Homo sapiens: one gene and its partners. The protein of the gene in region 4 interacts with the protein of the main gene of each other region in a pairwise test. Each region holds a gene or a part of one and is shown on either strand. Other genes may lie near its edges.

What was found.
Region 1: the proteins of FUNDC2 (region 4) and SLC16A10 interact in binary tests that used the Homo sapiens proteins (3 or more experiments, as listed by UniProt).
Region 2: the proteins of FUNDC2 (region 4) and SLC66A2 interact in binary tests that used the Homo sapiens proteins (3 or more experiments, as listed by UniProt).
Region 3: the proteins of FUNDC2 (region 4) and SYT2 interact in binary tests that used the Homo sapiens proteins (3 or more experiments, as listed by UniProt).

What each region holds. Positions count from the first base shown.
Region 1 is NC_000006.12:111,227,003-111,230,502, forward strand, and holds part of SLC16A10 (monocarboxylate transporter 10), read left to right. Parts: 3' UTR 1-3,500. UniProt on the Homo sapiens protein: Sodium- and proton-independent thyroid hormones and aromatic acids transporter.
Region 2 is NC_000018.10:79,913,654-79,917,153, forward strand, and holds part of SLC66A2 (solute carrier family 66 member 2), read right to left. Parts: intron 2,827-3,500; coding exon of another isoform or gene 2,778-2,826; exon of another isoform or gene 2,535-2,777; intron 2,042-2,534; exon of another isoform or gene 1,737-2,041; intron 1-1,736.
Region 3 is NC_000001.11:202,700,455-202,703,954, reverse strand, and holds part of SYT2 (synaptotagmin-2), read left to right. Parts: intron 1-3,500. UniProt on the Homo sapiens protein: Exhibits calcium-dependent phospholipid and inositol polyphosphate binding properties. May have a regulatory role in the membrane interactions during trafficking of synaptic vesicles at the active zone of the synapse.
Region 4 is NC_000023.11:155,029,844-155,033,343, reverse strand, and holds part of FUNDC2 (FUN14 domain-containing protein 2), read right to left. Parts: intron 1-3,500. UniProt on the Homo sapiens protein: Binds directly and specifically 1,2-Diacyl-sn-glycero-3-phospho-(1'-myo-inositol-3',4',5'-bisphosphate) (PIP3) leading to the recruitment of PIP3 to mitochondria and may play a role in the regulation of the platelet activation via AKT/GSK3B/cGMP signaling pathways.

The sequences.
Region 1 (3,500 bases), on a different chromosome or scaffold from region 4:
GTAGTCCCAGCTACTCAGGAGGCTGAGGCAAGAGGATTGCTTGAGCATAGCAGGTCAAGTCTGCAGTGAGCTGTGGTTGCACCACTGCACTCCAGCCTGGGTGACAAAATGAGACCTTGTCTACAAAAAGGAAAAAAAAATTTGTTCTGCTCTACTATACATGCTGACTTTTGTTGATAGCTTGGTCTAAAAAGACTGTCTAGAGCTGAATTTAAGAATGGTTCTGGAGCAAATAATAACAAGGTAGACAAGCAGGCCCTGGGCTCACTATAATTTCATAGCCACGACCTGTTTATTATTAGTTGGCAGAGATTAATGCTTTGTGTTATAAATATACTATAGAACAATAGGTCACGATTCTCAAGAACAAAGCCGAATGCTCGCAGTTAAGTGTGAAGCTTGCATAAGTGTCGGAACCACAATTATGGACCCACCATCAATGTGCATTTTATCAGATGACTCCTCCTGAGACAGTAAAGACTCCTGGAAAATTCATGACATCTTTGAATCACTCAGAAAAATCTTGAAACTCAGGACGTAGTTTACTTAGCTTGCCTTTTTTAAAATTATCAAATTTTAAATCGTAAACTTTGTCTTCACTTCCACACGTTCAAGGACACCTCTTTTAAAGTTCAGTGTTCCATACTAAAGGGGTGTAATCTTGCTTTCTGGGGAAATAAAATTCCCCATGGTACTATATTCCTGACAGATATAAAATAACATGAGGCTACCTCATTTTTGAAATAGATTTCAATATTTTTATTAGTAAGTTGGAAAGACAGTAGGAACAAAATGAAACCTTTCTAAGTACTTGATGACACCCACTTGATCATGACAATTCATCTACCTCCGCTTTCCGTGTCCAGCTGAAAGCCCAGCTGAGTCAACTCCTGCTTCATCAGAAGGGAGCTAATGGTGATTCTGGGATTAAAAAGCAAGGGGGGTGCAAATTGTTAGTGGGGTCAAAATATCAGTAAAATTTCTTAAGTGCTTTGTTCTGATAAACGGATGTAAAAGTAACAAAAAAGGAATAACAACTAATATGGCCTGTGGATCTGACAAAGAAAAACCTGAAGAAATTCAGAATCTAGATACACTTAGATTCTAAATTAGACACACTCAGATTCTAATGAACACTTAGAATGCTTCGCCAGTGGCTTTTCAAGTTACACTGGAAGCTTGATTATGAAAAAGTTTTGTTTTCATTGGCAAGAGGGTAGATGATCAGTGATGACAGATTGTACAGCTGTGCCCAAACCTGACAACTTACACATTAAACTCCTGTAAGAGACACTCCTTCCTAGTAGAACAAGGACTGGGACAATGAATTTTTGACTCACTGGAGTTTTTTAAAATGCTGTTCTTGAGTGTGGCAATAGTGTAGGAGTTAACCCAGTCTACCCAAAGAAGTTGCTTTGCCTTTCAATATGAGTGCTATAAAAAGAGTATTTTGGAGTTCAATGTCCCTAAACATGTATGCGATAGGAACTACCAATATAAAATAACACTTAGAACTCAAATTAGATTGGTAATACTATTTTGGAGCCTGTGATGTATGACTTTTATTCTTTACTAGATATTTTTCAGTATCCGTCATTAGAAGAGTCAGTTTGTTAAATATTTTAAATGTGTAAACACAAAACCTTTCTACTGTGATCTTCCCTAATGAGTCAAAGTATCTTTCATAATTCAGTCTATATTGAAATGTTATTTCAGGAATGGAGGGTTTGTTATTAATAGTGCTGGGCCGGGCACGGTGACTCATGCCTGTAATCCCAGCACTTTGGGAGGCCGAGACAGGCGAATCACCTGAGGTCAGATGTTGGAGACCAGCCTGACCAACATGGAGAAACCCCATCTCTACCAAAAATACAAAATTAGCCGGGCGTGGTGGCTCCATGCTGTAATCCCAGCTACTCGGGAGGCTGAGGCAGGAGAATTGCTTGAACCCAGGAGGTGGAGGTTGCAGTGAGCCAAGATTGCACCATAGCACTCCAGCCTGGGCAACAAGAGCAAAACTCTGTCTCAAAAAAAAAAAAAAAAAAAATAGTGCTGCATTTTGACCCTGGACTATGAACAGACTGTATAGTTGGTGCCTCTTTTTTTTCTACCAAAGATTATTAGATCAAGATTGGTGCTATACTTCATGTTCCTTTCAAAATTATTTTTCTTTTAAAAATATTAATATACAACACAATAGAAAATGTATACAGCCAGCAACGTTATGCATGTTGCATGTTATATACATGACTGAGGAAAAAAGCTCACCTATACAGTGATTATTGAGTTCCAGTATCTAGTTAGAGGTATGCAATTTTTGTTAACATATAAGACTTTAAATTACGAAACTCACAAGAAAATGATCACCAAATGAGAATGTTCTAATGAACACAACCTCCCAAGGTAATAATTTTAAAGAAAAAGTCCCTTGTCAATGTTTCTAGCACAAAGTGAGGGATTTAAATATATTCTGTAACTTTGAGGCAATGTGAAAAAGTTATATATAATAGCTTCCTATTGAGCTGGCTTATGTAGACATTTGGACATTTGAAACTATTTCGCAACTTTCAGGCTAAAATCAGAGTTTTGAGAGTCATCAATCTTAAAACATGGATAATGAGTTATTTGCACAGTTATATTTTTATAATTATTTGAAATTTATCACTGAAAGTATCATTGTTTGTCTTTCAGATTTAACATAAACAATAAGTACTGCGGCTGGGTCACTGTCAGCAAATCTCAGGTCTATGATTTATCAAGGGCTCTCAGCACCATCGTTGGTCTGATTGTGTAACACCTAAGTAAAATAACATATGGGTCTCCTTGGCCAGGCGCCGTGGCTCACACCTGTAATCCCAGCACTTTGGGAGGCCAAGGCAGGCGGATTGCTTGAGGCCAGGAGTTCGAGACATACGGGTCTCTTTAATGTTCTGTAGGTAGGATTCAGATGAATTGAGAATGACAGGTTTCTTTTTCTTTCTTTGTTTCTTTTTTTTTTTTTTTTTTGAGATGGAGTCTTGCTCTATTGCCAGGCTCCATATAGTGGCGCGATCTCAGCTCACTGCAACCTCCGCCTCCCGGGCTCAAGTGATTCTCGTGCCTCAGTCTTCTGAGTAGCTGGGACTACAGGTGCCCACTACCACACCGGCTAATTTTTGTATTTTTGGTAGAGATGGAGTTTCACCATGTTGGCCAGACTGGCCTTAAGTGATCCACCTGCCTCAGCCTCCCCAAGTGCTGGAATTACAGGCATGAGCCACCATGCCCGGCTAGAGAATGACAGGTTTCAGTTGAATTCTTCTCTTTTAAAAGACCCTGACTTAACTGTATTTTATGAGGATTTTATAAATGTAAATTAAGAAGACAATACACACTCTCATTTTCCTAATTAGAAAGACTATGCATTCACAATCCAGTACACTGGATTTGCTCTGGTAACTAATGATAACACTTTTCTACGTTAACATGAGTTATATTTGGCAGAGAGAATGGAAGCTTGC
Region 2 (3,500 bases), on a different chromosome or scaffold from region 4:
TGCAAGTACACGAGACACAGGACTTTCCAGAAGCAGGGCTGCTACGAGATCAACTCGGGAATTCTTGAGTCACTTCCTATCAAACATCCTAGAGACCTTCGGTTTAATGTGGAGCTGAGGCTGTGGGTCCCAGGGAAGATTCCAGGCAGCATCTACGCCTCCCTCACCTAGGGCAGTGGCACTAGCAGGTCCCCAGAGAAAAGGAGCTGAAGTTCAGGCTGTCACGTTTCAGGCTCATGTCACCATTCGCCACCAAAGTCTTGTTTGTTTTTTTACATGGAGTCTCACTCTGTTGCCCAGGCTGGAGTGCAGTGGCGCGATCTTGGCTCACTGCAACCTCCGCCCCCCAGGTTCAAGTGATTCTCCTGCCTCAGCTTCCTGAGTAGCTGGGATTACAGACGCCTGCCACACCTAGCTAATTTTTGCATTTTTAGTAGAGACAGGGTTTCACCATCTTGGCCAGGCTGGTCTTGAACTCCTAACCTTGTGATCCACCTGCCCTGGCCTCCCAAAGTGCTGGGATTACAGGCGTGAGCCACCGCGCCCAGCCCAAAGTCTTGGTTTTTTGGGTATCTGTTAAGTACGTGTGTGTGCACATTTTAAATACGTCATCTTAAACACGACCCTGGAGATTATACAGGAAGCACACATGATCTATCAAACCTGCATTCAGAAACCACTACCCACAATGGCTTCAAGAATCACAACTCCTGACAGGGCTGGGGATACCACGACGCCCCCATCAGGCAGATCGGAGCACAAAGGAACCTGAGACGTCTCTGACCTGCCTCCAGATGGGGGGTGGTCTGACAGCAGGAAGTGGGGGGTCACTCCAGCCCACCCCAAGGCTGCCGTGGCCCCGGAGGAACAGGCAGGTACCACAGGAGCACCCAGGAAGTGGCAAAGGGGAGAGACACCCCCTTGCCCAAGCTGCGTCTGGAGAGCGAGTGGAACCCAGGCCGGGGAGGGCTGAAGATCCACGGAGCGGTGGCCTGGACCCATGCGGAGAAGCCAGAAGACCACACAGCAAGGGGGGCAGAGGTGGGGACCCTGTGCCCCACAGGCTGCAGTGCCAAGGGAGGAAGGTGGGCAGGGCCCACAGGCCCAAAGAGACGGAGCTTCAGACGCGCAAGTGGAGCCGGCTCCAGACTCAGCCCTGCCCAGAGGGAGCCTCAGGAACAGCCCCCAGGTCGCCGGCCCTAGCCCTGCAGGCCCTGCCTTGCCCAGGCTGCCAGGTGGCGTCTCAGGTTGTGGAAGGCAGCTGCTGGGCCTCCAGAATTCACACTCGGGTGATACTAAAACCCAGGGCCAAGGTGAAACGCGGCGTCAGAGCAGCAGAAATAAGGACGTGCGGCACAAAGGCTGGGCCTGGAGTGGTCCTGTTCCCTTTCCCGTTTAGTGAGAACCCTCCCAAAACCTTCCCTCAGGCCATGCAGAGGCAACGTCCCCACAAGCAGACCCCAGACTTTGCCTGGCTGGCAGGCATGGGGTCAGGCTGGCTGTGCGTTCTAGCAGCAAACGCCTTATGTGTTCCAGTGGGAAAACCGCCCGATGGTCACTCTTAAAAGCGCAGACCGGATGAACTGGGCCTGGGGAGGGCTGAAGCTCCCGGCAGCACGGGCGGGGCCAGCCCCACCCCCTCCGCATCCCCCCAGGGCCCGCCCTGTCCCCTCCCCATCCCCCCGGGGCCAGGCCAGGGCCTCAGTGCACAGACTCTCCGGGGCGCTCATTACCGTAACTACAACCACACACTCCATCACTCCGAGCCGACCCGACGCTGCTGCTCCTGGTCCCCGTTCCTGACGAGGATGCACAGGGTCTCAGCGGTCCCGCACTTGAAGCTGGCTGACCTCGCTGCCTACTTCCTCCGCAGAGACTGCTCCATCTCCCTCAGCCTCAGGACTCCATCCAAGCCCTCACAACGTGCCAGCTGTGTGGGTCGCCCGTCTTCTGCCCGGCCCTCCCGGCAGGGACAGAGGCCAAGCCTCCTGTGGCCCGATGGGGAGATGGGGTGCCTGTGACATCCCGTCCCCAGCCACACCTGAGGTTTATAAAAGCAGAAGTTAGCCCAGGTGATCTCACAGGGGCTTGGCACTCACCCAGGGAGCAGGGCAAACTCAGAGGTAGAACACCTGCACCTCCTGGGATCCCTGAGACACGTTCCAAGTTCCGCAGCCAAGGAGAAGTATGCAGGCAAAGGACCATGACCCCGGCTCCCATCTCGCCCACACAGCACCCCCAATACTATTTTACATGTGTGTAAGTGTATCCGCATCCCACACACACGGGTTTTCATCCACGGTTCCAGGGTGCTAACTCCCACAGTGCTTCTGTACCCGCGGTGCTCTCATAGCCGCAGTGCTCCCGTACCCTCCCATACCCACGGTGCTCCCGTACCCATGGCGCTCCCATACCCACAGCGCTCCCGTACCCACGGTGCTCTCATACCCGCAGTGCTCCCGTACCCTCCCATACCCACGGTGCTCCCGTACCCGCGGCGCTCTCGTACCCGCAGTGCTCCCGTACCCTCCCATACCCACGGTGCTCCCGTACCCGCGGCGCTCTTGTACCTGCGGCACTCCCGTACCCGTGGTGCTCTCATAGCCGCAGTGCTCCCGTACCCGTGGTGCTCCCGTACCCGTGGTGCTCCCGTACCCGTGGTGCTCCCGTACCCACAGTGCTTCTGTAGCTCTTGTCATGACGTTGGGGTGCTTTAGGCCTCAGAAAACAGAATCTCTCTGACCTTTTGCCCTCTGTTCACCTGCCCAGGCAGGACTCTAACCCTCATTCCAGAGAGGGTCCTGCCGACATCCTGGAGGAAGGAGCCTGCACAGAGGACAGAAGAATCTCAACAGACCCTGCTGGGTTCACGTCGCACCCTTAGGTCCAATCACATTTCAACACCATTGTCCATCACGCCTATCCAATGAGGTCTCCCAAGTAGACAGGCTTTGGGAGGCTCCGGGGAGAGCTGAATTTGCGGGAGCCGGCAGGAGAGTGAACAGGAGCTCATCTGTGTGCCGTGAGGGCGGCAGCCCCACTCCACGAGACCGAGCTCCTGCCTGGGGACCCCTCCACAGCTCCCTCTGTGTATCCCCTCACTCGGCGGTTTATGTCTGTCCTTTAAAATGCTCTTTGTAAAATATCAGCAACCGTGTTTCCCAGAGCTCTGTGAGCCGCTCCAGCAAGCTGACAGAGCCCAAGGAGGGGTCATGGAACCCTAACATGGCCCAGAAGTTCCAGAGGCCCAGATTTGCGATGGGTGTCTAAGTGTGGGTGGCATCTGGCGCTGTCTCTGGGTCAGGACAACCGGCGGTGCCCGCCGCAGGACCGACTGCCTGCTCGGTGCTGGGGAGACGCCTGCACATGGAAGTGTGTGTGCTGCTTGTGGTGAAGTGAGTGAGAACAGGAAAAGCACGTCCAATGTGTTTCTTCCACACACAGACCCCCCTTCCACAGGCGTTTCTGGAGCCTTCCCCGTGTGTGAGAAGAGCAGACCT
Region 3 (3,500 bases), on a different chromosome or scaffold from region 4:
ATTGGGTTGATACAGTGGCTCTGGAATTTAGTAATTAGGAAATATTGCAATTAGAGACGGAATTTACCCATTACTATTCCATGCATCTTAATACAGGGTGTAAGTGGTTGTAACTGTGAGCTTGGCACTAGGCATATGGGAAAATAGAAGTGAATGGAGAAATGGGATGAAGGAAGGAGGGGATGGGAGGAGCTTAACCCTTTCCATACCCGAGTAGACTGAAGGAGCAGCCTGGGGGTGATGCAGGGTTAGGGCGAGCCCAGCAGCCCACCGCATTTGTAAGAGGTGACCGAGGCAAAAATCACAGGCTCCCTCCGGACCTTCTGCTTCTTTAGCTCAGGTAGGATCAGATGCAGGGCTTGGCAGGGGTTAGGAGAGTGGTGATGGAGGCCAAGAGGGAGAGGCTGCAGGGGAGAAGGGCTCTTCTCCCAGTTTCCTGCTCAGCTGTGGAGAAACAGAAAAGAGTTGTAACCACCTGCAGTAGTGTGCATGTGAGAGACAGGAGAGGGTACCTTGTACCTTCATCTCTCCCTCCCCACTTGTTCCTTCCCCCGCCCTTCTTTTTACTCCCTTCCTCACTCCTACTCTTAGCTCCATTTTCCTCTGAAGTCAAATGAGGCATTTGTGGTATTGCAGGGCTGAGCTGGGTAGGGCCATGTGTATGGGCGGCGGAGGGAGGGGAGCGGTGGCCGGGGGTGGGAGGGTGGTAGCGTCAAAGAGGTGGTGCTCATTTTTTCCTTTCCAGACCAGAAATGCCTTCCCCAAGGTCAGCCAGTGCTCTGAGCTCCAAAGACCTTCCCAGAGAACCTCTGCTCCCTAAGGGCTGGGTGGTTTGAGAGAAATCTCTTTTCCTCACCATTGATTCCAGTCTGAACTAATGATCCAGATGTGTTGTGCATGTCCTTCCTCTTCTACAAAGTGACTCGGGAAGCAGTTTTTATGCTATTTGTAGAAAGGAAGCATTTTCTGGAGCGGGGCCTTCTCTGCTTCTGCTACACCTTAACTCCCTAGATTAGAGGAGAGCTGTGAGGCCGCAAGGAGGGGGGCCTGGAGAGGGGCTTGGGCTGAGGGTGGTAGAGGTCTCTGAGGACTGTCCTTGTCTTCTGCCTCCTGTGTTTATTTGGAGAAAAGCCCATTTAACAAATGTACAGGTCTTTACCTCTATCCCTCTTGGGGCTGTCTGCCATGTATCTTTCATTGTACCAACTCAGATGGACCAAGTGACGGCCCGGTCATAGGGCCTAAGATGGGATGTTAGGAGACGGGGTGGAGGCCTGCAAGCAGGAGGAGAGGGGACCACCCAGGCAACCCTCTAGAAGTGCAGGAAGGATGAACAAGAACCTATTGGTTAAGTGCTCTTGGGTCTTGGAGGGAAGCAGACCTAGGACTGAAATCCATCCTCACCACTAGGAGCTAAGAAGAGTTACAGGTAAACCCCAGGAAACTCAAGGGTGGCTGTGGCTAGGATCAGTGTTAGCGGGAAGCATGGAGTTAATTGGCTGTGGGAGGGCTCCCTCTCCCAGTTTGACTCTCCCACGAGTAGGAAAAGGCATCACTTTAATAAGGCTGCCCTGTTTCCAAATCAATCCTGGCATTGCAGGAGGCGAAGGGGGAAGCACAGCTGAGAAATTGGATTAGCTCTTTGATGCTGGGAACTGTGCTGGTTGCTGCTGCTGCAGCTGCAGGAGGCAGGGAAGCATCAAGAACTGAGCCTGCCATTGGCAAGCCAGCCCCAGACGTCTGAGGCTTCCCAGGGAGGCGTGCTCCACCCCCATTAGGTCTCCTACTGGTAGAGGGTGGCAGGGGTGCCCTGGGGCAGACAGTAATAGAAGCCCAGGTCCTCACCACTGCAAACCTGGAGGTGTCTTCGTGCCTCCCCTGGAGTAGATCGTGAGCCCCAAAGACCTCAGGAGGTGAGGCAATGGGGAAGGGGCAGAGGAGAGGCCCCCACAGCATGTTCTGTAGGGCATAACTGAAGCAGCGTGTGTGTGGCTGGGAGTCAGATGGCCTAGGTCAAACCAAGACTGCCACTTCCTGCCTGTGTGACCCTGGGCAAGTTACTTAAACTTTCTGAACTTCGGGGTCCTCATCTGAAAATGGAGACAGTAACACACAGGGAACAGGCCCTTGTGAAGTTTACCTTATAGCAGTAATCAAGATGGGGGCCACGGGTCCCTGGGAGTCCCTAAGAATTTTCAGGGGGGTCCATAAGGTCAAAGCAGTTTCCATGATGGCAATAAAGTTATTTGCCATTCCCATGCTTGACATTGATGGTGCTAAAGCAGTGGTGGGTGAAGCTGCTGGCACCTTACCATGAATCAAGGTAATAGTATCACACTGCACCCGTCTTTGTGTTCTTCCACACTACACACCCGCTAAGCAAAGTAATTGGTAAATAATGAAATGCCATTTTCAGTTAAGAATGTCTTCTTTTCATGAAGCAGCAAAGATTATAATTATATTGAAGCTTGATTCTGGAGTGCACATCTTTTTAATATTCTCTGTGATGGAATGAGAAGTACACATAAAGCACTTCTGCTTCTTACAGAAATATTACACAATAATTTCTCAAGCAACTGAACAGTGCCCATCACCTGTGCATCTGTTTGAGTTGCAGGCTGAACTAGCCATTTTTCCATGGGATACCATTTTATCTGAAAGAACAACCAACAAACTCCAGTTATTCAGACTTGGGTGTTGAGCAGGCATTTTTGCAAAAATGAACGAAGTGAGCTCGTCACTTCCAGAAAAACAACTGGCAGTATTTGTGGCCAATGATAAAATTTAAGCTTTCAAGCAAAAATTAGAATTTTGGAAAACTCACACATATTACTATGAAAAGGACTTTTGTGATAAGATCAGTGGGAATAGTAATAGATGTGATTTGTTAATATTGTTTAATGAAATTCATCAATATTTGAAAGATCTTCACAATTCGGCAAGCCAATATCTTCGAAATGATAAATGAATGATGTCACAAAATCATGCACAGAGGCAAACAAGCATTCCAAGTGCAAGGTTTCAGATTCCCCACTGCAGCCAGTCTTTAAGAAGCTACCACTTGGGGAGCAGTGATGTCATATCAAAGAAAAATATCCACAATGATCTGAAAAGGCTTTATTAAATACCCCTCCCCTTTCCAGTTACATATCTGAGTGAGGTTGGATTTTCTTTCATCTTTCAATCAAAGTAATGTATTGCAGACAGACCGAACACCGAAGTTGATATAAAACTCTAGCTACCTTCTAGTAAACCACACATTAAAGAGATTTGCAATGATGTGAAACAAGGCCTCCTTCTTACTAGATATTTTACTAGAGAAAACGTCTACTATATATTTTTTTGGTCTTGGAAAATATAGTTACTTATTAAATATGTTGTATTAACAGGTAATGAGTTACTATTGTATTTTGAGCTAATTTAGAAATTTCTCAGTTTTAATTTTGAATATGGTAACTATGGATGGATCTAACTTACATAAGAAAACGCTCTTGGAGGGT
Region 4 (3,500 bases):
ATATTTAAAGAAACAGACATAAATGTAATAAGAAACCTCCAAATATTCTATTTTAAATAGTAAATTTATTCTAAGTTGCAATTTTGGAAAATCAGACTAAAATCAGCAAATACTAATGTCTATATTACAGGGAAAAACCTAGAAAATCTCAAATTAGTCCTCTAGTTTGTCCTCTCAAATTTAAAAATAACAAAAAAGGCTGGGCGCGGTGGCTCACGCCTGTAATCCCAGCACTTTGGGAGGCCGAGGTGGGCGAATCACCTGAGGTCAGGAGATCGAAACCAGTCTGGCCAAAATGGCAAAACCCCATCTCTACTACAAATACAAAAATTAGCCAGGCGTGGTGGCAGGCACCTGTAATCCCAGCTACTCAGGAGGCTAAGGCAAAAGAATTGCTTGAACCCAGGAAGCAAAGGTTGCAGTGAGCCGAGATAGTGCCGCTGCACTCCAGCCTGGGCAACAGAGCAAGACTCCATCTCAAATAAATAAATAAATCCAAAAAGACCTATAAAAAACTGCCAGTAATGCATCCCAAATGAAACAAATTTGCCCCTTCTCTTCAGAAGTAGCTCAATGCTATTCAGTAATCCACAAATTTTCTAAGTACTACGTGGATCTCCAGTGATAATGAAGATGAGAGGGTAATGTTTAATTGAGCTCTTACTATTTACCAGGCAATGTGCTAAACATTAATCATGTACATCTAATTAATCCACAGAATAAGGTAGGTACTACTTATTAACTCAATTTTATAATTAAGAAATGAAGGCCAGGCATGGTGGCTCACACCTGTAATCCCAGCACTTTGGGAGGCCGGAGGCAGGTGGATCACCTGAGGTCGGGAGTTCAAGACCAACCTGACCAGCATGGAAAAACCCCATCTCTACTAAAAATACAAAATTAGCCGGGGGTGGTGGCACATGCCTGTAATCCTAGCTACTCGGGAGGAGAATCACTTGAACCTGAGGGGCAGAGGTTGCGGTGAGCCAAGATCGCACCACTGCACTCTAGCCTGCGCAACAAGAATGAGACTCCATCTCAAAAAAAAAAAAAAAAAAAAAAAGAAGGCACCAGGCGTGGTGGCTCACGCCTGTAATCCCAACACCTTGGGAGGCCAAGGTGGGCAGATCACCTGAGGTCAGGAGTTTGAGGCCAGCCTGGCCAACATGGTGAAACCTCGTCTCTACTAAAACTACAAAAATTAGCTGGGCATGGTGGCATGCGCCTGTAATCACAGCTACTTGGGAGGCTGAGGCAGGAGAATCACTGGAACCGGGGAGGTGGAGGTGGCAGTGAGCCGAGATCGCGCCACTTCACTCCAGCCTGGGCAACAAGAGTGAAACTCCGTCTCAGAAAAAAAAAAAAAATGAAATGAAGGTTCCAAAGTTAAATGATTTGCCCAAGCATGGAGAAAGACTTAACAAAATGTCAATCCCTTTCTCTGTGGGAAGATAATGTCAGGCTCCCCTACTATACCCAGCCCTGTTTCCCTGGAAACACACCGCACTAAGAAATGTCTGATATGAAATGTCAGCAATGTACTATTCAAAGCTGTTTACTGTAAAATTGACCTCAAATGATCAACTTCATCTGGCATGGAGTGTGTACAATCTTTTCACACATAATGTAACAAACAATAGAAAATGACTACTACCCATGCAAAGGCAAAGCCATATAAAGGAAACAAAATTTGTTTAAATAAAAGAAATAGAAGCAGGCCAGGCACGGTGGCTCACGCCTGTATCCCAGCACTTTGGAAAGCCTGGGGGACGGATCACTTGAAGTCTGGAGTTCAAGACCAGCCTGGCCAACATGGTGAAACCCTGTTTCTACTAAAAATACAAAAATTAGCTGGGCGTGGTGGCATGTGCCTGTAGTCCCAGCTACTCGGGAGGCTGGGACAGGAAAATCACTTGAACGCGGGTAGCGAAGGTTGCAGTGAGCCAAGGATCGCACCACTGCACTCCAGCATGGGTGACACAGCGAGACTCAGTCCCAAAAAGAAAAAAGAAAAAGAAACAGAAACAGAAACAGAACCAGTGATGATCAAGATGCTGAAGTAAGCAAATAACAATGATCAAAAACTGCTCAAAAGATTAAACATATATGTAATTGGAGTTCCAGAAGATTAGAAAGAATGGGATAGAAGTAATATTCAAAGAGGTACACAAAAGTTATTCAGGCCGACAAGAAATGATGCCACATGGAAATATGGAAATGCAGAAAGGAATGAGACACTGGAATGGGCAAATAGGTGGATAAATCTAAATGAATACTTACTGTAAAAAAATAATAATTACAGAAATTTTATACTTTAAAATCAAAGAAAAAAATCAGAATAAAAAGTAGAAAATAGGGGCTGGGCGTGGTGGCTCATGCCTATAATCCAAGCACTTTGGGAGGCCGAGGCGGGTGGATCACCTGAGGTCAGGAGTTCGAGACCAGCCTGGCCAACATGGTAAAACCCCGTCTCTACTAAAAATACCAAAAATTAGCCGGGCATAGTGGCAGGCGCCTGTAATCCCAGCTACTCAGGAGGCTGAGATGGGAGAATTGCTTGAACCTGGGAGGCGGAGGTTGCAGTGAGCCGAGATCAGACCACTGCCCATTTTCCTGGGCAACAAGAGCGAAACTCCATCTCAAAAAAAAAAAAAAAAAAAGTAGAAAATAGGAATAGAAAGGGATTTCTTCAATCTGATATAGGACATCTATGAAAAATATACAACTAACATCATACTTAATGGTGAAATATGGAACACTTTTCTTTCCCTAAAATCTATTCAACTGTTTTTTGTTTTGTTTTGAGACAGGGTCTCACTCTATCACCCACATTGGAGTGCAGTGGCACTATCACAGATTACTGCAACTTCAAACTTCTGGGCTCAAGCAATCCTCCCACCTCAGCCTCCCCAGTAGCTGGACTACAGCTGTGCACCACTATGACCAACTGATTTTTTTTTTTTTTTTTTTTTTTTTGTAGACAGGAGGTCTCACTTTGTTGCCTAGGCTGGTCTGGAACTCCTGGCCCCAAGTGATCCTCCCTCCTTAGCCTCCCAAAGTGCTGGGATTACAAGTGTGAGCCACCTCGCCCAGCACTGTACTGGAGTTCCTAGCCAGTGCAACAAAAGAAAAGAAATAAAAGTCAAAGAGATTAGAAAGGAGGTACAACAATAATTCTGTCTTCATTGGCAGATAATATAACGGTGTATATAGAAAACCCAGAAAAATCTACAAAAAGGTACCAGAAGCAAGGTCACACATTATAAGACCAATATTAAAAAGTCATTTGAATTTTTGTGTATTAGAAATGATGAATTGGAAAACAAAATAATTTTAATTGCAAAAATTATGTTGTAGTAAATTCAATGAAAGATGCACAAGACCTGTTCACTGTAAACTAGAAAACACTGCAAACTACAAAACACTGCCAAGAAATTGAAGATGACCTAAAATAACAGTGATATACTGTTTATGTTTTGCAAGACTCAATATTTTTAAGA